4 separate regions of the Homo sapiens genome follow, and all the other regions are linked to region 4. The links come from fine-mapping of genetic effects on gene expression. A gene starts in region 4. Each other region holds a variant in brackets. All regions are shown on one strand. Distances are from middle to middle. Region 1 overlaps LOC105375920 (a long non-coding RNA gene). Region 2 overlaps TPD52-MRPS28 (TPD52-MRPS28 readthrough). Region 3 overlaps TPD52-MRPS28 (TPD52-MRPS28 readthrough). Region 4 holds the start of TPD52 (tumor protein D52).

Region 1 (5,239 bases), 35 kb before region 4:
GTCCTGCTGCTTCCTTGCTTCCTTATAAACACACACACACACACATACACACACACACTCACTTTCTTTCTAAGGGGCAGTGTTTTGAAGACAAGTCTGGACTGGGCTGAGCAAAGAGCTGGAAAGTACAATAAGATCCTGGAGGAATAACTCACCAAAAGGATAGGACACAGGGCTGGTGGGCTGGCTTCTGAACTTCCACATAGAGGGGAAAACAGATTGTTGGTGCAGGGTCTTAGAGTGGGGCCTCTTGGAACAAATACAGTTGACTGGCAAGCTTGAGTGCAGGGAAAAGATTTTTCAAGTGCATCTGAAAGCCAGTTCGATGAGAATCTTTTTTTTTGTTTTTGAGACAGAGTTTCACTCTGTTGCCCAGGCTGGAGTGCAATGGTGCGATCTCGGTTCAGTGCAGCCTCTGCCTCCCAGGTTCCAGTGATTCTCCTGCCTCAGCCTCCCGAGTAGCTGGGATTACAGGCATGCGCCACCACACTCGGCTAATTTTTTTGTATGTTTAGTAGAGATGGGGTTTCATCATGTTGGCCAGGCTGGTCTCGAACTCCTGACTTCAAATCATCTACCCACCTCAGCCTCCTAAAGTGCTGGGATTACAGGTGTGAGCCAGCGTGCCTGGCCTTTCAATGAGGAGAATCTTTAACAGACTGTGACATGGAGAAGGACTACTGTGGCCTGCAGAGGAGTTGGCATAAATAGCATTAGCCACATTGACAGTAGGACAGGAGTATCAGCCACATGGCTTGAGTCTGCCTGGGTTTCAGCAGGCAGCTACACCAAGCCTCCTGCTTAAATATTAATAGCACCAACAATAGCACAGTGATTGCAGAGTCATGAGCTGCTGGGGCAGCTGTTGTGATACAGCCCTGTTCAGGGGTACTTACCTGAGTTCCAGCCGCACTGAGAAGACAAGCTACTTCCAGGACATTGTTGGGACATGTTAGAAGGACTTTACAGCATATTTCCATATGTATCAGGGAGAAACAATGTGCTGAAGGATGATTCTCAAAGGCGGAACTTCACAAACTTTTAAACATCTTGGCACATATTAAATAGCAAATTTAGATTCTGCTCATAGCCAGAGATAGCCATCTTGGGAGCTCAGGCTGGTCCCAGCTCCATTTGATTATCCGAGGGCTGAGGGATTCAATATTGAGATTAGGGCAACCCATTTGGGCACATCAGTTAGAAAGCTGTGCTTAATGAACCCAGTAAATTCTTTGTGGGGAGACAAATATAAAAAAAACAAGGACATTTTCAGCAAAGCATAGATTCTAAAACTTGTTTTAAAATTTTTTTTCGGAAACTCTACTTACCTTGGAGGTAATATTTTTTTTAAAAAAAGAGATGAGTAAAACATTTTTGCAGATCAGTCTTAGCCATGTCCCTATATCTCAAGAACTTTCCAGGGTGGAACCATGGCTAATGGTTAGAAAATGAGAGGGGGCCTCTCCTCCCAGAAACCTGCCCTTCTACACCATTCTCAATAGTTAGATGGAGAGTCTGTCAGATGGAAAGAACCACCCAGCATGAGAACAATGGGCCCATCAAATATCCTTTAAGGGATGACCTTCACTGCAGCCAGCTTCTTCCAGGCCTCCAAGGTAAGAAAAGAGAGCTGGAAGTACTAACATCTAAGAGAATCCGGTGATTCTGCAAGTCAAGGAGGAGAATCATTCACAAAAGGGGTAGAAATAACTGGTTTAGAAGTGGTGCCAAGAAGAACTTGGGTGCTTAACTTCTACTGCTCCCCCTCCTTTCAGAGCCTCTGAGAAGGTTCAACGCCACCTGCTTCCTGACCAGTGTCAAATCCGGGCCATTACAGTCCCTGAACAGACCCTCCTCCATGCTATCTCCACCCTCTGTCTTGTGGCCTGATATTGACATTTTTGCCTAAAATCCAACTGGAGTCCTTGGATTTTCTGAAAAGCAAAATTTTAATATAAATACTAGATAGTATAACATGTCAATAACCAATAGTTTTCAAGCAGATGAAGTATGCTGTCCTTACCATGGAACTTATGGTCCTGAAGAGGCTTCACATTTGAGTTGCAAAATCTTCTTGGAGGAAATTCTCCTGAAAGAGCCTTGTAACTGCTCTGGGACATCTGTTTTCACAGGAGGCCAAGGGAGCAGGTGCATGAGCAGCTGAGAGGCGATGTCTTGTTTATAATGTAAACCCTCCATGGTTCACACTCCTCCAGACCCAGATTCTGGCCGAATAGCATGAAGATGAGTCATCAAAGAGGGATAAAGGAAAAACAAAGGGGAAATGAAGCAATATAATGGAGCAAAAAGAAATAAAATCAACACAACCAAAAATATCTAAAATGGACCCATAGGAGCCTAAAAGGATAACAGATTAGGATGGCTAGAGTCAATATTTGCCAATTCAACTTTAAGAATTAAAAAATGAGATATGTTGGAAGGCAAGTTTCCCATGTCTAATAAAATTTAGAATACTCATACCTTTTGACCAAGAAATATACTTCTTAGAATTTATTAATATATACCCATGTAAGAGACACAGAGTATATTATTAATAAGATGAATGTATGGCCAGGCA[T/C]GGTGGCTGAGGCAGGAGGATCACTTGAGTCCAGGAGTTTTGAGACCAGCTTAAGCAACATGACGAAACCCCCATCTCTACAAAAAAATACAGAGTTTTTTTATTTTTATTTTGTAGAGATGGAGGTCTTACTATGTTGCCCAGGCTGCTCTGGTTTAGAAGTGGTGCCAAGAAGAACCTAGGTGCAAAACTTCTACTGTTCCCCCTCCCTTCAGAGCCTCTGAGAAGGTTCAATGCCACCTGCTTCCTGACCAGTGTCAAATCTGGGCCATTACAGTCCCTGAGCAGTCCCAGGGACTGTTATGATATCCATTTAGTTTCCTTCAGTCAGGTTCTGTTTCTCAGACTTTCTTTGTTTCTTATTAACCTGTCATTTTTATGCCAGGCACGGTGGCTCATGCTTGTAATCCCAGCACTTTGGGAGGCCGAGGTGGACGTATCACCTGAGGTCATGAGTTGGAGAGCACCCTGGCCAACATGGTAAAACACCATCTCTACTAAAAATACGAAAATTAGCCAGGTATGGTGGTGCTACTTGGGAGGCTGAGGCAGGAGAATCGCTTGAACCAGGAGACGGAGGTTGCAGTAAGCTGAGATAGCGCCAATGCACTCTAGCCTGGGTGACAGAGCAAGACGCCGTCTCAAAAAAACAAAAAACAGAAACAAACAAAAAAAAACCTTGTCATTTTTAGAGTACAGGCTACTAACCATTTAATTATCCCCTGGTTTGGGTAAGTCTGATGTTTCTTCAGGATGTATGCTTTTTTATTGCAAGGAATACCATAGAAGTAATGATGTGGTTTTCTCATTACATTACATCGGAGGCACAGGACTTGTACTTCATTATTGATGATAACTTTTTTTTTTTTTTTGAGACAGGGTCTTACTCTGTTGCCCGGGCTGGAGTACAGTGGTACAATCATGTCTCACTGCAGCCTCAACCTCCCCAGGCTCAGGTGACCCTCCCATGTCAGCCTCCCAAGTAGCTGGGACTACAGGTGCACACCACCACACCTGGATAATTTTTGTATTTTTTGCAGGGATGAGGTTTCTCCATGTTGCCCAGACTGGCCTCAAACTCCTGGTCTCAAGCGATCTGCCTGTCTTGGCCTCCAAAAGTGCTAGGATTACAGGCATAAGCCTCCAAAAGTGCTAGGATTACAGGCATAAACCACCATGTCCAGCCCTGATGATAATATTTATCACTTGGTTAATGTGTTCACCAAGTTTCTTCACTATAAAATTAATTAATGATTACATTGTGTTCACTGATTAATAGTTAATTAGTACTTTGTAGTAATATGCCTTAATACTTTTACTATAAGGTAGAACATTCTCCCCATTTATTCATTCATTTTAAAATTTATATCACTATGTGTTCACATACATTTACTTTACTCTGAGGTTTAATCTGTAACACTTTTTTTTTTTTTTTTTGAGATGGTGTCTCGCACTGTTGCCCAGGCTGTAGTGCAATGGCACAATCTTGGCTCACTGCAACCTCCACCTCCTGGGTTCAAGCAATTCTCCTGCCTCAGCCTCCCAAGTAGCTGGGATTACAGGCACATGCCATCACCCCCAGCTAATTTTTTGTATTTTTAGTAGAGACGGGGTTTCACTATGTTGGCCAGGCTGGTCTCGAACTCCTGACCTTGTGATCCACCTGCCTCAGCCTCCCAAAGTGCTGGGATTACAGGCGGAAGCCACTGCACCCAGCCTCAATCTGTAACTATTACTACAAATAGTTAAATATTGTCCAAAATTGCCCCGGATTTGGCCAGTGGGAATTTCTTCAAACTGACTCCTATGTCCTTTTGACATGTACCCTTAAATCTTTTTGTTTTCCTTTTAGACACAGGGTCTTGCCATGTTGCCCAGGCTGGAATGCAGTGGTTATTCACAGATACCATCCCACTACTAATCAGCAAGGAAATTTTGATCTGGTCTATTTCTAGTCTGAGCCAGTTCACCCCTCCTTATGTAACCTGGTGGTCCTCTGCTCCAAGAGGTCACCATATTGATGTTAAACTTAGCACAGTCACCTGATTGGCATAGTGCACTACAACTCAGAACTCCTGGACTCAGTCATCCTCCTGCCTTAGTCTCCTGAGTAGTTGGAACCATGGGCACACACCACCATACCTGGCACCCTTCAGTCTTTGAGCTCTTCCTTACTTTCTGGCAAAACAAGATACGCCCAGGTCATCTTGTATTTTCCCTGTCACAGCCATAGAGAAAGCCATTTTTCCAAGGAGTACTGGTTCTTTTTATGTGACAATGGTATTTAGAAACCAAGATCTGGATGGTAGGTGTGTTCACTACTACCAGTGTGTCATTCCATCTAGGAACCTTTTAGGAGGAGCCTGAGTGACAATCGGTTTTACCGTTACATTTCTTCATTTTGCTCAGTGATACCTCCAAGATTGCTCTCTATGCCAAATAGCTTCTATTTGCCCCACCATATCCAGTTCCAGCCTTCTTTGTGTTGCTCTCTGCCCAGGAGCCTGAATGGTATGGACCATAATGATCATTGCCAAGTCCACTGTCATTCTGATTGGGTTCAGCCAGTGCAGAGCCTCAGTAAGAAAAAAAGAAGAAAGAGGAGACGAAAGTCGGGGTATTTATCACCTTGCCTCCTTCCCCACCAGGTGTCTTTGAATT
Region 2 (5,239 bases), 36 kb after region 4:
TAATCCCAGCAACTTGGGAGGCTGAGGCAGGAGAATTGCTTGAACCTGGGAGGCGAGGTTGCAGTGAGCCAAGATCGTGCCATTGCACTCCAGCCTGGGCAACAAGAGTGAAACTCTGTCTCAAAAAAAAGAAAAAAAAAAGAAAAGAGACGGGGTCTCATTCTGTCGCTCAGGCTGGAGTGCAGTAGCACAATCATGACTCACTGCAGCATTGAACTCGTGGGCTCAAGTGATCCTCCCGCCTTGGCCTCCCAAAGTGCTGGAATTACAGGCCACCCTACCTTGCTGAAATATTTAAATTCTGAAGGACCAAACTATCCCCTTCTCAAAGAACAATATGAACTAGCACCGTTATAAACTTGGTACTGCTGTAAGAGTCCTACTCCTGAGGGCTTCCACCCATCTTATTTTCATACTTATGAAAAATAATACATGTTCAAAGCAAATGAATCCAAACAGTATGCAATTAAAACTCAAACTCTCTTAGCCTAGACCCATTTCTCCCAGAGCGGCTGTTATGATCAGCCTCTGGGTGTCCTTCCAGAAATGTCTAGGCAGGTAATGTATACAATCACTTTAAAAGTTCAAATGGGAACATGTCATACACATTATTCTGTACTTTGCTTGTTTTAACTGACACGTATCTTGGATATTAAAAAAAAAATCTAACATATAGTTTCCATTTTTTAAGAAAAAAGCTTTATTGATATATAATTTGCCATAAATAATCACCATATAGTTTACCTTAAAATTCACTTGTTTTAAATGTACAATTCAGTGATTTCTAGTAAACTTACAGAGTTGTGCAGTGATCACCACAATCTAATTTTAGAATATTTTCATCACCCTGTGTCTATTTACAGCCACTCCACATCCCGTGCCCGCAGGCAAACACTTATCTATTTAGTTTCTATAGATTGATTTTATTACTCTTTTTAATAGCAACCTGTGGTCCATTTTGGAAAAATACAAACATGTATTTAATTGTGCTTTATCCAAGCACATTTAGCTTTTGCTGATGTTTTATTTTGCTGCCTGCCTACTTTAAAAAAAATTGGAAAAGATTGAAATTTTGTCTTTGAGCCATACTTGTTAAGAGTGATAAGGGAGTTTTAGCTGAAGTTGTTTGTAGATTTTCCAGTCATTACCTGTGGAACTAGGAGAAGAATTTTGGGGCCTGGATAATTATTTATATTTGAATAGAAACTGCCTGAGGTTGTTCTTGATTAGATGAAAGCCCCAGCATTTATTGTGTATTTTATGGATGTGGGTGAAGTGGAACTAAGTATTTACACATGATTGGGGTGAAGGGGGATTTATTATTTCAGTTTTTTGCCTTTGTCTCTACCTAGGAGGATTTTAGGAGCTGTTGAGTGTTCAGAAGTATGTCTTCGGATATATTCTCCATACTGTTTCTTGGGACCTTTTACTGGGTTGTGGATTTTGACCAAGTGTTTTTTTAAGAAGAACAAAGTAGTAGAACAGTATGAGACCAAAATGTCCTTCATGTTCTAATGGTGAGCACTGTTTTCTTTTTTTTTTTTTTTTTTTTTTTTTTTTGAGACAGAGTCTCGCTCTGTCGCCCAGGCTGGAGTGCAGTGGCGTGATCTCAGCTCACTGCAAGCTCTGCTTCCCGGGTTCCTGCCATTCTCCTGCCTCAGCCTCCTGAGTAGCTGGGACTACAGGTGCCCACCACCACGCCCGGCTAATTTTTTGTATTTTTAGTAGAGATGGGGTTTCACCGTGTTAGCCAGGATGGTCTCGATTTCCTGACCTTATGATCCACCCGTCTCGGCTTCCCAAAGTGCTGGGATTACAGGCGTGAGCCACCGCGCCCGGCCATTGTTTTCTTAAATGTCAACTTTTGTTTAAATGTGTGTGTGAGTGTGCTTGTTTTTTTTTTAACCTCAAAGACTGAAATTTTTTTTTTTAATTAATTAATTTATTTTTTATTATACTTTAAGTTTTAGGGTACATGTGCACATTGTGCAGGTTAGTTACATATGTATACATGTGCCATGCTGGTGCGCTGCACCCACTAACTCGTCATCTAGCATTAGGTATATCTCCCAATGCTATCCCTCCCCCCTCCCCCCACCCCACAACAGTCCCCAGAGTGTGATATTCCCCTTCCTGTGTCCATGTGATCTCATTGTTCACTTCCCACCTATGAGTGAGAATATGCGGTGTTTGGTTTTTTGTTCTTGTGATAGTTTACTGAGAATGATGATTTCCAATTTCATCCATGTCCCTACAAAGGACATGAACTCATCATTTTTTATGGCTGCATAGTATTCCATGGTGTATATGTGCCACATTTTCTTAATCCAGTCTATCATTGTTGGACATTTGGGTTGGTTCCAAGTCTTTACTATTGTGAATAATGCCGCAATAAACATACGTGTGCATGTGTCTTTATAGCAGCATGATTTATAGTCCTTTGGGTATATACCCAGTAATGGGATGGCTGGGTCAAATGGTATTTCCAGTTCTAGATCCCTGAGGAATCGCCACACTGATTTCCACAATGGTTGAACTAGTTTACAGTGTGCTTGTTAAGTAGTAATTATCAGAAATGTTGGAAAACCAGTGCCTTAAGAGTAAGGGTATATTCAGGCTTCCTCTTTGTCAGAGCTCTAACTCTCCTGGGGGGCAGGTAGGCTGGGGCAGGTAGGGTGAGAAGACTCAGGTAGTTCACCGAGATAAAACTTTGTTGAGGTTGGCTGGGGAAGTGAGCCAGTTGTCTTGGGAAGTGGGAGGTGAAAATGAAACTCCCTGTGTGACCACTTTTCTCTATCAAAAATAATAAATTATTTCAAATGTTCTAAATAAGGAGGCTTTGGATAGATTTTAGTCAGCTTGTTAGCTATTCAATTCTGGCAACAACCGTGTGTACATCTAGACTAGGGAGACGTTTACAATTAAATTCACTGGGTCTTGTGGTTGGAAGTAACCTGAAGGGATATCTATGCAAGTTTCCATCCTGTGTGTGCATCCCTTCTGTAATACCTCTGCCTGGCAGTTCAGCATCTGCACTTGC[G/A]TACGTCTCCTGGAAGGGAATTCATGAACTCTCTTGGGATCCCAGTTCTTGTCAGCTTCTTCATGTTGAAACCCTCAGGCTTCATATATCTCAGGGTTTGGATTGGCATTAGTTATCTATCGCTGTGTAACAAATTACCTCATCATTAAGGGGCTTAAGGCAACAAATATTTATTATGTCAGGAACAAGTCAGGAGTCTTGGAGCAGCTCATCTGGATGGTGTGGCTCAGGGCCTCTCGTGAGACTGTGGTCAAGTTGACAGTTGGGGCTGTCGTCATTTGGAGGCTGAATGGACTAACGGATCCACTTTCAACACGGCTCCTGCACCTAGTTGCTGGCAGGAGGCCTCAGTTCCTACTGTGTGGACCTCCACTTGGAGCTGCCTGAGTGTCTTCATGACACACTCTCTCTCGGATCAGAAAGGAGACATTAGTAATGCCAAGGATACTCCTTTACTCCCTTCACAAGTGGGCACAGATATGGTCCTTTTTCCACCAGCTCTAGAAAGAAACATGCAGAGATGTTTGAAGGCAAGAAGACAGTGGCCTGCATGACTTGGAGCTTTTCTTAATTGTAAGTCAGAGATAATAATTAATGTCATGCCTAGTTCAGAGAATTATTGTGTGACTCAAATGAGATGATGAGCATTAAGACATTGGAAACTTTAGGTACTATATGAATGTTTTCTTATTGGGGCAAACCATTTTCCTCTTGTAAAGGTGAGCCCAGGGACATGTCTCTCCCCCATCTCTATACTATCAGTTCTGATCTTTGAATGATTGCAGTGCCCCTCATAGGGTTGGGTAAGGACCAAGGCAGAGAATATGTAGATAATGCAGCACAGTACCCGGCACATAGTAAGCATTCAGTTAACAGCTACAATTACTTAATGGTTTTGAAATAGATATGCCAGGCACTAAAGAAAATTAATTGATAAATGAAATAACTACTGCTCCTAAGCTGTGGCCGTGGATTAGAATCACCGTGTCTGCCATGTCACTGACTCTACAGAATACTGTATATGGAAAAATGGTTTTTATTATTTGTTATTTTCTATATTTGGATGACATTTCTGATCTGAATTTCAACCGTGACTTCTAGTCCTCTGTATCTTCTTCTTATTCTGACTTGCTACAATATAAACTTCATCCTTTAAAGAAAAAGTGACCCTGTTATTCTTCCTTGGGGTGTTTTGAATATCCTCCCCCTCCTTGCCCAGCTTCCCTCAAATGTGCCAACAATTTTTTTCTTTTCTTTTCTGTTTTTTTTTTTTTTTAGCATCAGCGGTACCATCAAGTTCCTGGACTCTTGAACTTGATGAAATCGAGATAGTTTCTGTAGGGCTCCATTTGGAATTGAGGAGCAGGTGTGGTCTAGACCTAAGGTCCAGTGGTGGGAGGAATGGAAAGAAGAAATGGAGCCAAAGGAAACTGAGGGAAGGATTCATGTTTCTCTGGCTCAGTGAGTGGGTGGGTCAAAGAAATAAAATGTTTGTAATTGGTTTTAAGCCTGGGCAACTGGAGAAAGTGGTGGTAGTGTTAATAAGAGACCAGGAGGAACACAAAGAGGAAAGAATATCTGGTTTTGGAGGGAAGAAGGAAAATTCAGTTTTGATTCTGAATTTGAGGGGGGTTGGCATCCACCAGACAGCTAAACATGGAATATGGCCCATGGGTGGTGGTAGCAGTCCTTGCTGCTATTCCTGGAACCTCTCAGAGGGTCAATCACAGGCTGTCACCGTTTGCCTAAGTGGTATCCTAAGAAAATGTCTGAAGTGGTCCAGGAAGAGGGGCCGATAATTATTGAGTAAAGGTAAAGGGAACACACATTATTAGACTGGTGCTTTTGAATGTCATATTTATTCTTAATAGCAACTATATGAGTTATATGTGCATACCTGGTTTTACAAATGCAGGAAAAAAGGACCGGAGTGACCAGGTAAGCTATCCAAGGTTATGCAGCTAAGAGGTGTTGGAGCCAGGATTTGAACTCTACACTCAGTTTTCATCAGTGAACAGATTTTCCTTTTACATCAGCATCAGAAGCATTATGGCTGGCTGAACTGATAGAGAACTAGCAAGTATGGACTCAAAAGTGGCATGGGGACCCCTTAGTAATTAATTACTGAGGGTAACTAAACTCCAGGTAACCTTTTGCCCCTTCCTTTCTTCCAGCCATTGGAAGAACGTCCTCATGTGG
Region 3 (5,239 bases), 76 kb after region 4:
CTACCGTTTTAGTTTGTTCTTGCATTGCTGTAAAGAGCTACCTGAGACTGGGTAATTTATAAAGAAAAGGTTTAATTGGCTCACAGTTTCACAGACCGTACAGGAAGTATGGCTGGGGAGGCCTCAGGAAACTTAGAATCATGGTGGAAGGCAAAGGGGAAGCAGGGACGTCTTAGATGGGTGGAACAGGAGGAAGAGAGCAAAGTGGGGAGGTGTTACACACTTTTAAACAATCAGATCTCTTGAGAACTCACTATTGTGAGAACAGCAAGGGAGAAATCTGCCCCTATGATCTAATCACCTCCCAGCAGGCCCCTCCTCCAACACTGGGGATTACAATTTGACATGAGATTTGGATGGGAACACAGATCTAAACCATATCAGCTACCTTCATAAATTATCTTAGCTAGATCTTTTGGATAGTTTGCTGCAGCTTCCCTATCAGCACTTGCTGCTTCACCTTATACATTTATGTTATGGAGATGGCTTCTTTCCTTAATCCTCATGAACCAACCTCTGCTAGCTTCAGACTTCTTCTGCAGCTTCCTCACCTTTCTTAGCCTTCATAGAATTGAAGAGAGGTAGGACCTTGCCCTGGATTAGGCTTTGGCTTGAGGGAGTGTTGAGCTGGTTTGAACTTCTATCCAGAGCATTCAAACTTTGTCCATATCAGCAATAAGGCTGTTTTTGCCCTCTTATCATTCATGTGTTCACTGGAGTAGCACTTGTAATTTCGAAGCTTCAAGAACTTTTTCTTTGCATTCAAAACCTGGCAGGTGCAGGCGGTCTGGTTTTTGGCCTACAGAGACTATTGACATGCCTTTCTCGCTAAGCTTAATCATTTCTAGCTTTTGATTTAAAGTGAAAGATGTGCTACTCTTCCTGTCATTTGAACACCTAGAGGCCATCGTAGGGACATTAATTGGCCTAATTTCCATATTGTTGTGTCTCATCAAATAGGGAGGCCTGAGGAGAGGGAGAGAGATGAGAGAATGGCCAGTTTGTGGAACAGTCAGAGCACAAACATTTATCGATTGAGTTTGCCATCCTGTATGGGTGTCGTTTGTGGCATCCCAAAACAATTACAATAGTAACATCAAAGGTCACTGATCACAGATGACCATAACAGATATAATAATAATGAAAAAGTTTGAAATAATGAGAGAATTAGCAAAATGTGATGCAGAGACACAAAGTGAGCATGTGCTGCTGGAATAATGGCACTAATAGATAGACTTTCTGGACACAGTGTTGCCATAAACCTTCAGTTTGTAAAAAACATACTGTGAAGTGCAATGAAGTGGAGTGCAGTAAAACAGGAGTATGCCTGTACATGTAAACATGCTTTCTTTGGTGCTACTTCAGATACTTAGGAAGCCTTGACCATAGTCCAAGCAGATGAGTTTTGGTGCTTGAGTATTTTACCCCAGGCAGACTAGGAGAAGTTTGTGTGTGTGTGTGTGTGTGTGTGTGTTTGTGTGTGTGTGTTTGATAGTCTTTATTTATTTTGAGACAAGTTCTTGCTCTTGTCACTCAGGCTGGAGTACATTGGCACAATCATGGCTCACTGCAGCCTTGACCACCTGGGCTTAAACAATCCTCCCACTTCAACCTCTTCAGCAGGTGGGACTGCAGGTGCACACCACCATGCCCAACTAATTTTTGTATTTTTCATAGAGACGGGTTTTTGTCATGTTACCCAGGCTGGCCTCAAATTCCTGAGCTCAAGCAATATGCCTGCTTTGGCCTCCCAAAGTGTTGGGCTTGGAGGCGTGAGCCACTGTGCCTGGCCGATAGTATGTATGTATGTATGTATGTAGAGATGGAGTCTCACTCTGTTGCCAGGCTGGAGTGCAGTGTCGCGATCTCAGCTCACTGAAACCTCCGCCTCCTGGGTTCAAGCGATTCTCCTGCCTCAGCCTCCTGAGTAGCTGGGACCACGGGCGCATGCCGCTACACTCAGCTAATTTTTGTATTTTTAGTGGAGACAGACGGAGTTTCACCATGTTGGCCAGGATGGTCTCGATCTTTTGACCTCATGATCCTCCCACCTTGGCCTCCCAA[G/AG]TGCTTGGATTACAGGCATGAGCCACCGCACCCGGCCTAGTCTTTGTATTTTAGGGCAGTTTTGGGTTTACAGAAAATTGAACAAGTAGTGCAGAGTTCCTTCACGCCCCTAGTTTCCCTTATTATTAACACCTTAAATTCATATGGTACATTTGTTACATTTGGTTAATGCTGAGACATTATTATTAACTAAAGTCTGTAGTTTTTATTAGTGTTGTCCAGTTCAATGGATTTTGACAGATGCATAATATGTAGCCACCATTGCAGTATCATACAGAATACTTTCACTGCCCTAAAAATCACCAGCACCCCAACCTAGTCATTCCTGCTTGCCTCCCCCTCAGCCCTTGGTAACCATTGATCTTTTTACTGTCTCCATAATTTTGTCTTTTCCAGAATGTCACATAGTTGAGATCTTACAGTATTTTGGCTTTTCAGATTGGCTTTTGTCAATAATATGCATTTAAAGTTTCTTTGTGTTTTTTCACAGCTTGCTAGTTCATTTCTTTTTAGTGCTGAATAATATTCCACTGTCTGGATGTACCACAGTTTATTATCCATTCACCTACTGAATGACATCTTGGTGGTTTCTTGTTTTTGGTGATCATGAATAAAGCCACTATGACCATTCACTACAGGGTTTTGTGTGGTCATAAGTTTTCAGCTCATTTGGGTAAATACCTGGGAGTGCAATTGAAGGATCTGTGATATATTCTTGGTCCCAGCATCTCTCCTCCTGCTGACAATTACCCTCCTTATTGTGACAACCTAACCAGGCCTGCCTCTCCCAGGGCTTCCTCTTCTTCACTTAGAGCATTTTCTGAACAAGTCTGGACACAAAGGTCTTGCTTATATTTTCAGGAAAGAGTATTTAAAATACTTCTTAATCATGGTTCCAACTTATTTCAACTCTTATAATTAAGTGATCATTTTTTTTTTAAATTATGGTAGAATATGTGTATATAAGATATAATTTGTGATTTTAACCATTTTTAAGTATACAGTTCAGTTGTATTCATCATATTCACATCATTGTGTAACCATCACCACTATCTGTTTCCAAAACTCTTACCTGGGGATATGATCATTTTAAAAGAGGAATTTGAAGAAATACATCTGAAGCTATATTTGGCAATATGTTTCCATCAGTAACTCCCAAAATCTCAGTGGCTATTGGCAACAATCTTTATGTCTCCCTCATGTTATATATACATACATATATATATATATATATATATATATATATATATATATATATATATATATATATAAAATTTTCTTTTGTCTAGAACTTAGTCACATGGCCACATCTAACTGCAAAGGAGCCTGGGAGGTGTAGTCTAGCTACCTGCGTAAGAATAAGAACAAATTGGCTTGGCGATTTGTTAGCATTCCTGGCCATATTAAGTAAGATTATTAAATCATACACATTGTTAACTTGATCTTTCAGAGATGACATGACAGTAATTGTATGGTTTCATAGATCTGGCTGTGTTTCAGGAGAGCATTTTTCCATCCCATGCTCTCTTTCCATCTAAACGTTAATTATCTTATCCTTTTAACACTGAGAGAGCTTCCTGGAATAAATAAAATTATATGCCTATTTTGATAAATACCTGTTTGATAGCGATGTTTTATAAAACTCTGAGAAAAGTCAACAAGGAGCCTTCACAGTGATTAATACAGCAGTTATTATGGTCAGATGTTAAAAAAAATCTCATGTCTTCAGTCTTGTGCCAAAAGGCAAAGAAAGTTTTGAAGCTTTCCACACACTGATTTGGTTTCAAGATAATGGGCTACTATTGAGTTTACATGTAGCATTGGTCTTCTGCTATTGTCTTTATAAAGGAAAGTATGTGAAATTTGGAATTGGAAATGTCATTTCTTAACCAGAGTAGCAGGTTCAGATGGTGAAGCTATCACTTTTGGCACAGGACTCTTGTTTCTTAATAAAATTTAATGAAAAATTGACAAGATTTGTGCAGTGTATATTTTTTTTAATGGTTGACCCACTGAATGCATCTAATTAGCTTATTACAGTTTAAAAGCAAGTTTAACTGCCTAAATGTATGACTTGGTATTTTGATCTTGTTTGTTAGGTCTCAGCTTGCTGATGATAGAAGTTTGTGGTCCAATATTAATTTTAAATAAGTGCCTACTGTTCTCTAGAAACTCCCATTCCCTTAAGGAAAAGTGTTTCATATGAGCCTCTCATTGCCAGGAATAGCTGTGTAAGCATTGTGGAAGTTTTTTCCACATTAAAATGTAGTCCACCAGTTCATTTATTCCTTTTAGGGTTGTGACAGTCGCTTGTGTTTATGCACCCCTGTAGAGCTGTCTTTAAACTCATTCAGCAAATTGGAAACATTTAGCTTGGATGACACCTCTTTAATCTTCCAGTAATCTCACCATAGAGACCACTGTACTCTCAAATACATTGTTAATACTTTTAGTAAGAATGGCCTGCTTTCATTCTCTTATTACTGAGCCATTATTCTGGACTCTGTTTATTATTATTATTATTATTCCAGAGTCGAAATAATTATCCCGTTGAAAAGACCAAGCATGTGCACACCCTGTTGTGACACAGCCGGTTTTGTCCTATCTGAACTTGCCTGCTTTGTGAACTGTTAGGGTCTCAGAAAAACAAAAAACAAAATCTTTTATTTTTAACATTTAATTTTTTATAGTTTTTATATTTTTTAATTGAGACAAAATATATGTATATAATTTACCATCTGTACCATTTGAAATGTACACTTCCTTGGTAATAAATATATTCTTTATTCCCCCTTCCACCTTTATTCCATCCTTTATTCCTACCCCCACCCCTGCTCAACTCCTCCTCTTCCCAGCCTCTGGCAGTAATTTAAAGTGTGAGTGACAATCTCACCTCTTATAATTATGTGATCTTTTTTTTTTTTTAAATTGTGGTAGAATGTGTATAACACGGAATTTGTGATTTTACTCTCTCTTCACGAGATCTACAGTTTTTAGCTCCACTTGAGTGAGAACGTGTGACAGTTGTATTTCTGTTCCTAGCTTATTTCACTTAACATAATGACCTCTAGTTCCACCCATGTTGCTGCAAATGACAAGATTCATTTTTTTATGGCCAAGTAGTAATAAATTGTGTATATATACCACAATTTTCTTTATTCAACTATTAATGAAT
Region 4 (5,239 bases):
TCTAACAGAAAGCCAACTACAGTGGCCTTACAAAGTCAGGCATTTATTTTTTTCCAGTAAGAAGCAGGTCTCTGATGCCATGGATTCTTGGGTTCTTTCTGCCGTCCTTGGCTTGTGAATTTCTTCCTCGTGTTTGCAAAATGGCTATTGCCCCTCTAAGCAGGAATGGGAAGGGTGAAGGGCCAAGTAATGCTGCCAAGTCTGTCTTCTTTTTAAATGCTTTCTTGGAGATTCCAATTAGTACAGTTTGCTCACATCTCATTGGACATTAATGAGAGAGACCCACCTCCAGCTGCAAGGCAGTTTGAAGTGCCCAGTGTTTCAGCTGGGCACATTGCCACTCCAAACAATATTTAGGTTATCTTAGGAAGGAAAACAGGAAGGCTGTTTATCAGGTAGGCTATTTGCCATCTCTGCTGCATGTGAACTACTCTATAAGCTCTTCAAAAGATAAGACTTTTTTTCCTTTCAGCATACATAACAAGTTCATCACTATATAGTAAGTTAAACAGATACAAACAATAAATATTTGTAACGGACACTCACGTTCAAGTGCTATTTATTTGTCCACAAATTAGTACATTGAGAGATTGTCTCTCCAGATGTTTATTTCTATACAATAGATCTCAGCATCAGCTAGTCAAAAATTCTTTACCACATACAGAATTTTCTGCTGATGCCAAAATTTACCTTTATGTTACATTAAAAATTTTTTAAAAAATATTGCACCTTTTTGGGCTCAAGCAATCCTCTTGCCTTAGCCTCCTGAGTAGCTGGGTTTACAGGCAAACACCACCATGCCTGGTTTAAAATTACAATATTTATTAATTGCATGGTAGAATTAAAGGATGCAGAGATGACCAAAATAATCTTTGCCCACCTGGAACTTTTTTTTTTTTTTTTGAGATGGAGTCTCACTCTGTTGCCCATGCTGGAGTGCAGTGGCGTGATCTCAGTTCACTGCAACCTCTGCCTCCCGGGTTCATGCCATTCTCCTGCCTCAGCCTGCCGAGTAGCTGGGACTACAGGCGCCCGCCACCACACCTGGCTAATTTTTGGTATTTTTAGTAGAGATGGGGTTTCACCGTGTTAGCCAGGATGGTCTCGATCTCCTGACCTCGTGATCCGCCCGCCTCGGCCTCCCAAAGTGCTGGGATTACAGGCGTGAGCCACCGCGCCCGACAATTTTTGTATTTTTAGTAGACACAAGGTTTCACCATGTTGGCCAGGCTGGTCTCAAACTCCTGACCTCAAGTGATCCACCCGCCTTGGCCTCCCGGAGTGCTGGGATTACAGGCGTGAGCCACCGTGCCAGGCCTGTTTTTTGATTTTTTTAATAGGCCATTTTAAGGACTTTACCACCTGGAGCTTGTAACCTAATAGGACTGTGAAACATACACTGGTAGCATCCTGGCACCAGTGCTGGGGTGAGTGCCACAGGAGAGGAGCCAAGTGCAGTCAGAGTAGAAGGACTCAAATAGAAGAGATCACATCTGGTTGAGTCAAACAGTAAACGTCCCCAGAAGACACTGGAAGATGCAGGCTGGAGAGAGCTACACTTTACATACAGCACGACAGTATAGAGATATTAATAGCATACAGTCACTTCAGGTAACTACAAGTAATTTTAAAACATCTGAATAAGTGCTTCTTTGTTGTCTGTGGAGTGCTACACAATGCTTCGGCCTAAACGTCAAGCAACACAGAAAAGAAGCCCCACTTCATTTGCAGCCTCAGATAGCTTACGAAATTGAGACACCACCTGAAGACCATGACCCATACAATCAAAGTGACTTCATGGAAGACGAGTAACTGCAAAACCCTGTGAAAACAGATTGTTAACGCTACTAATGAAAAGAACTGGATTGTTACGGGAACCTCAAACTGTCCTTTGATCAACGGACATGACGCCTCAACACGCATTTTCCAAAGATCTCTGCTGATAATTCTGACCTTCGGTTAATTTAATTAATTTCATTTGATTTAATTCATTTTAGTGTTGTCCTCAGTCCCGCACTCAAAACAGATTTTTATTATATGAAAATCTTCCTAGTCACCTAAAAAATCCGCATTCTATGGAAAAGACTATATAATTTTTCAAGAGATTCTTTGCAATTTTCACCTATGCTGGTTTATGACCTAGTTAGAGAAGACATCATAGGGCATTATTTAGGTAATAAAATACAGAGAGAAAAGAGCCACTGGCATTTCTAAATAACGTTCCTGTGTTTCCTACTGTAAGTATAGGAAAGTAGGTGTTCGCAGATGCAGAGAAAGGGCATCTCCAAGGCCTCGGAGGAAACTTTTGATTTTATAAATAACTTGATGGTGGAAGGCAAACGCCATCCCGGTTCCCAAGCAGGCTCCACGCAGCCTCCATGGCCGAGTCCATCTCCTCGCCGTCCTCTTCCCTCCTCCCGGCCGACTTCCAGCCGGTGCGGGAGTCGGGGTGCGCCCGGCCCTCCTAGCGCTGCGCCGCCCGCGCCGACGTGGCGGAGCGCACAGGTCGACCGGGTCAGGTGGTTGGGTGACGCCCCAGGAAAGCGCTCCAGGCCGAGGGCGGGCGGCGCCGCCGCGCCCGACGCCTCTGGGGGTGGGGACTTCGCGGGAGTCGCCGGCGGAGGCGAGGAGGAGCTCTGCGCGGCGCGGCGGGCGATCCGAGCCGGGACGGGCTGCAGGCGGGGGTGCTGCAGAGGACACGAGGCGGCGGGCTGGAGACATGGACCGCGGCGAGCAAGGTGAGGGCGCGGACCCAGCGGGCTTGGGCTCGGGCTTGGACTCGGGCTTGGACTCGGGCTTTGGCTCGGCGCGGGGCTGAGCGCGGCCCGGCGGCTCGAGCAGGTGCCGAGCCTCCTGGGCCGGCGCCGCAAGTTGCATCTCCCGGATCCGGATCTGGCATCCTGGGGCCCTGGAAGGAGCGGCTCTGGCGGGGGCAGATGGGACTGCATGTGTGAGTGTGAGTGTGCGTGTGTGGGGGAGAGGGAGAGAAGGTTCTGGGAGGTGGCGAAGGGGCTAGCGTCAGGGGCTGGCGGCCGTGATGCGCTTTGGGTGGAAAGCCGCGTGAAGGGAGCACGGCGCAGCCAGCTCCTGTAAGTGACTGGAACCAGGAACAGAGGACAGTGAGTCGCTCTCGTCCCTCCAGGTGGGAAACCCCTCTCTCCCTCATAAATTAAGACTTTCTGCCTTCTTCTAAGTTCAGGTGGTTAGGATTTTTGGTGGCGTATGACCCATGGGGGGTTTGGGAGGCAGATATTTATCATACTAGAAACCCCCAGATTGTGGAGTGGTGTCTGTGGGTTTGAGGGAAGAGAGCTTTTCGTAGGAAGGGTGAAATCCCACAACACAAAACCTTCAGTCTAATTTACCATAGCGTTGGGTGCACTTGCTTCTGAAAACAGCTCAAGTGAAATTACCCCCAAATAGAGCAATAGTAGGCCATGGTTTTCAGATTTAAATAGTTTCATCCTAGAGATCTCTGCTGATCATAAGCCTGTGACTGTACGCAGATGTGTGTGGCACGCTTTTAAAAAGATACATAAATGCTGAAAAAAGAAAACAAGGTAGGTAATCTTGGGAAGTGAGGATAGGAATCACTCCTGTTTTGAGCCCTGACACAAGTTTTCATGTATTGCTTATTTTCCTCCAGTATGTGCCGTCATGTGTGCATTTTTATGTAAATCAAACCATATTCCAAATATACTATCTTGTACTTTATTTTTTTCAGACTCTGGTGTTTTTTTTGTTTGTTTTTTTGAGTCTCCACCTGTAGCCCAGGCTGGAGTGCAGTGGCGGGATCTCAGCTCACTGCAACCTCTGCCTCCCTGGTTCAAGTGATTCTCCTGCCTCAGCCTCCCAAGTAGCTGGGATTACAGGTGTGCGCCACCACAGCCCGGCTAATTTTGTATTTTTAGTAGAGACAGAGGTTTCTCCATGTTGACCAGGCTGGTCTCCAAGTCCTGACCTCAGGTGATCCACCCGCCTCAGCCTCCCAAAGTGCTGGGATTACAGGTGTGAGCCACTGGGCCAGGCCTGTACTTTACTTTCATTTACTTGTAAGATAGACTCTTTGGAGTCTTTCAGCTCTTTCCTCGCTCCCCTTCAGATTAATTTCAGACTTAACACAAGTGCTTACAAACATTACATACAATATGCTTTATATGTGTTACCTATGTGTATATATATATTATACATTACCTGTATAACGTATATATACACATACATATTATTATCTAAATTTTAAGCTTCTTGAGGTTAGAAACATTTCATCTTTGGTTGTCCTGAGTGGGATAACATGATGACTTGTACATAGTAGACATGCAAATGTTTGAGTTAGAAAGCTTGTCACATGTCTTGTATATATTGTTAGCCGGCTTAGGGGCCACCATGTAAGTCAGCATTATGTCTGTCTGGCTTTCAATGGGGGCGACGCAGGACGGGGGAGACATGACGACAAACGTGCCCATGTGTATTTGTATACTAATCTGTTACACACTGTCGTTTGACATAATGATGTTTTTAGAATAACTATGTTTGGTACTTGTCAAAGTAAATTAAACGGCTGTGTTTTACTTACGTGAGTGGAGTAACTAGTTTTAGTAGTGTTTGTGTTCTAGCTTGGGTGGTAAGAATCAACAGTCATTGGTAGCACTGCAGTATTCCAACTTCTTGTGTAGTTTTTATAGGACTAGTTTAAGTGTCTAATTCTAAGACATATTTTTTTCAAATCTTTATCTTGTAAGATGAGTCTTTTCGTGTCTATAATTTTCCCATATGTTCTTTGGGTGAGGTGGAGGACTCTGCTCCGAATGAAAGAAGAGGCACTGCCTTGGGAGGGTCAGTTCATTTACTCCAAAGCTTTGCTGTGTTAGAACAACGTGGCCAAGGCTGGGTGCGGTGGCTCACACCTGTAATCCCAGCACTTTGGGAAGCTGAGGCAGGCAGATCACTTGAGGCCAGGAGTTTGACCCCTGTCCAACAAGGTGGAACCCTGTCTCTACTAAAAATACAAAAATTAGCTCGGCGCGGTGGCACCGGCCTGTAGTCCCAGCTATTCAGGAGGCTGAGGCAGGAGAATCACTAGAAACTGGGAGGCAGAGGTTGCAGTGAGCTTAGATCAAACCACTGCACTCCAGCCTGGGCGACAGAGCGAGACTCTATCTCAAAAAACAAACAAACACAAAACAAAACCACCTGGCCATTCCTTACTCTTGCTTCCACCTGCCTACCTGCCTTTTCATCT

Evidence for each region. PIP is the estimated chance that this variant, and not a neighbour inherited with it, causes the effect.
Region 1: its variant is fine-mapped to the expression of TPD52 in tibial artery (GTEx, PIP 0.94).
Region 2: its variant is fine-mapped to the expression of TPD52 in naive CD4 T cells (Schmiedel 2018, PIP 0.95).
Region 3: its variant is fine-mapped to the expression of TPD52 in whole blood (INTERVAL, PIP above 0.99).

The regions. Positions count from the first base shown.
Region 1 is chr8:80,204,092-80,209,330 of GRCh38, reverse strand. The region is part of intron 2 of LOC105375920 (a long non-coding RNA gene); the gene reads left to right. It also overlaps the pseudogene RN7SL41P. Among named protein-coding and RNA genes, the nearest start is that of MIR5708, 35 kb to the left of the region's middle. The variant T/C (reference allele first, on the strand shown) is at 2,579.
Region 2 is chr8:80,132,845-80,138,083 of GRCh38, reverse strand. The region is part of intron 1 of TPD52-MRPS28 (TPD52-MRPS28 readthrough); the gene reads left to right. The region is part of intron 1 of TPD52 (tumor protein D52); the gene reads left to right. Among named protein-coding and RNA genes, the nearest start is that of TPD52, 36 kb to the left of the region's middle. RefSeq lists an enhancer at 3,491-3,540. The variant G/A (reference allele first, on the strand shown) is at 3,041.
Region 3 is chr8:80,092,527-80,097,765 of GRCh38, reverse strand. The region is part of intron 1 of TPD52-MRPS28 (TPD52-MRPS28 readthrough); the gene reads left to right. The region is part of intron 1 of TPD52 (tumor protein D52); the gene reads left to right. Among named protein-coding and RNA genes, the nearest start is that of MRPS28, 65 kb to the right of the region's middle. The variant G/AG (reference allele first, on the strand shown) is at 2,065.
Region 4 is chr8:80,168,924-80,174,162 of GRCh38, reverse strand. It overlaps TPD52 (tumor protein D52), which reads left to right and starts at 2,599. Exons shown (of 8, transcript NM_001025253.3): 1 at 2,599-2,738. The coding sequence starts at 2,720. TPD52-MRPS28 (TPD52-MRPS28 readthrough) reads left to right here and starts at 2,599. Exons shown (of 7, transcript NM_001387778.1): 1 at 2,599-2,738. The coding sequence starts at 2,720. RefSeq lists a silencer at 2,438-2,767.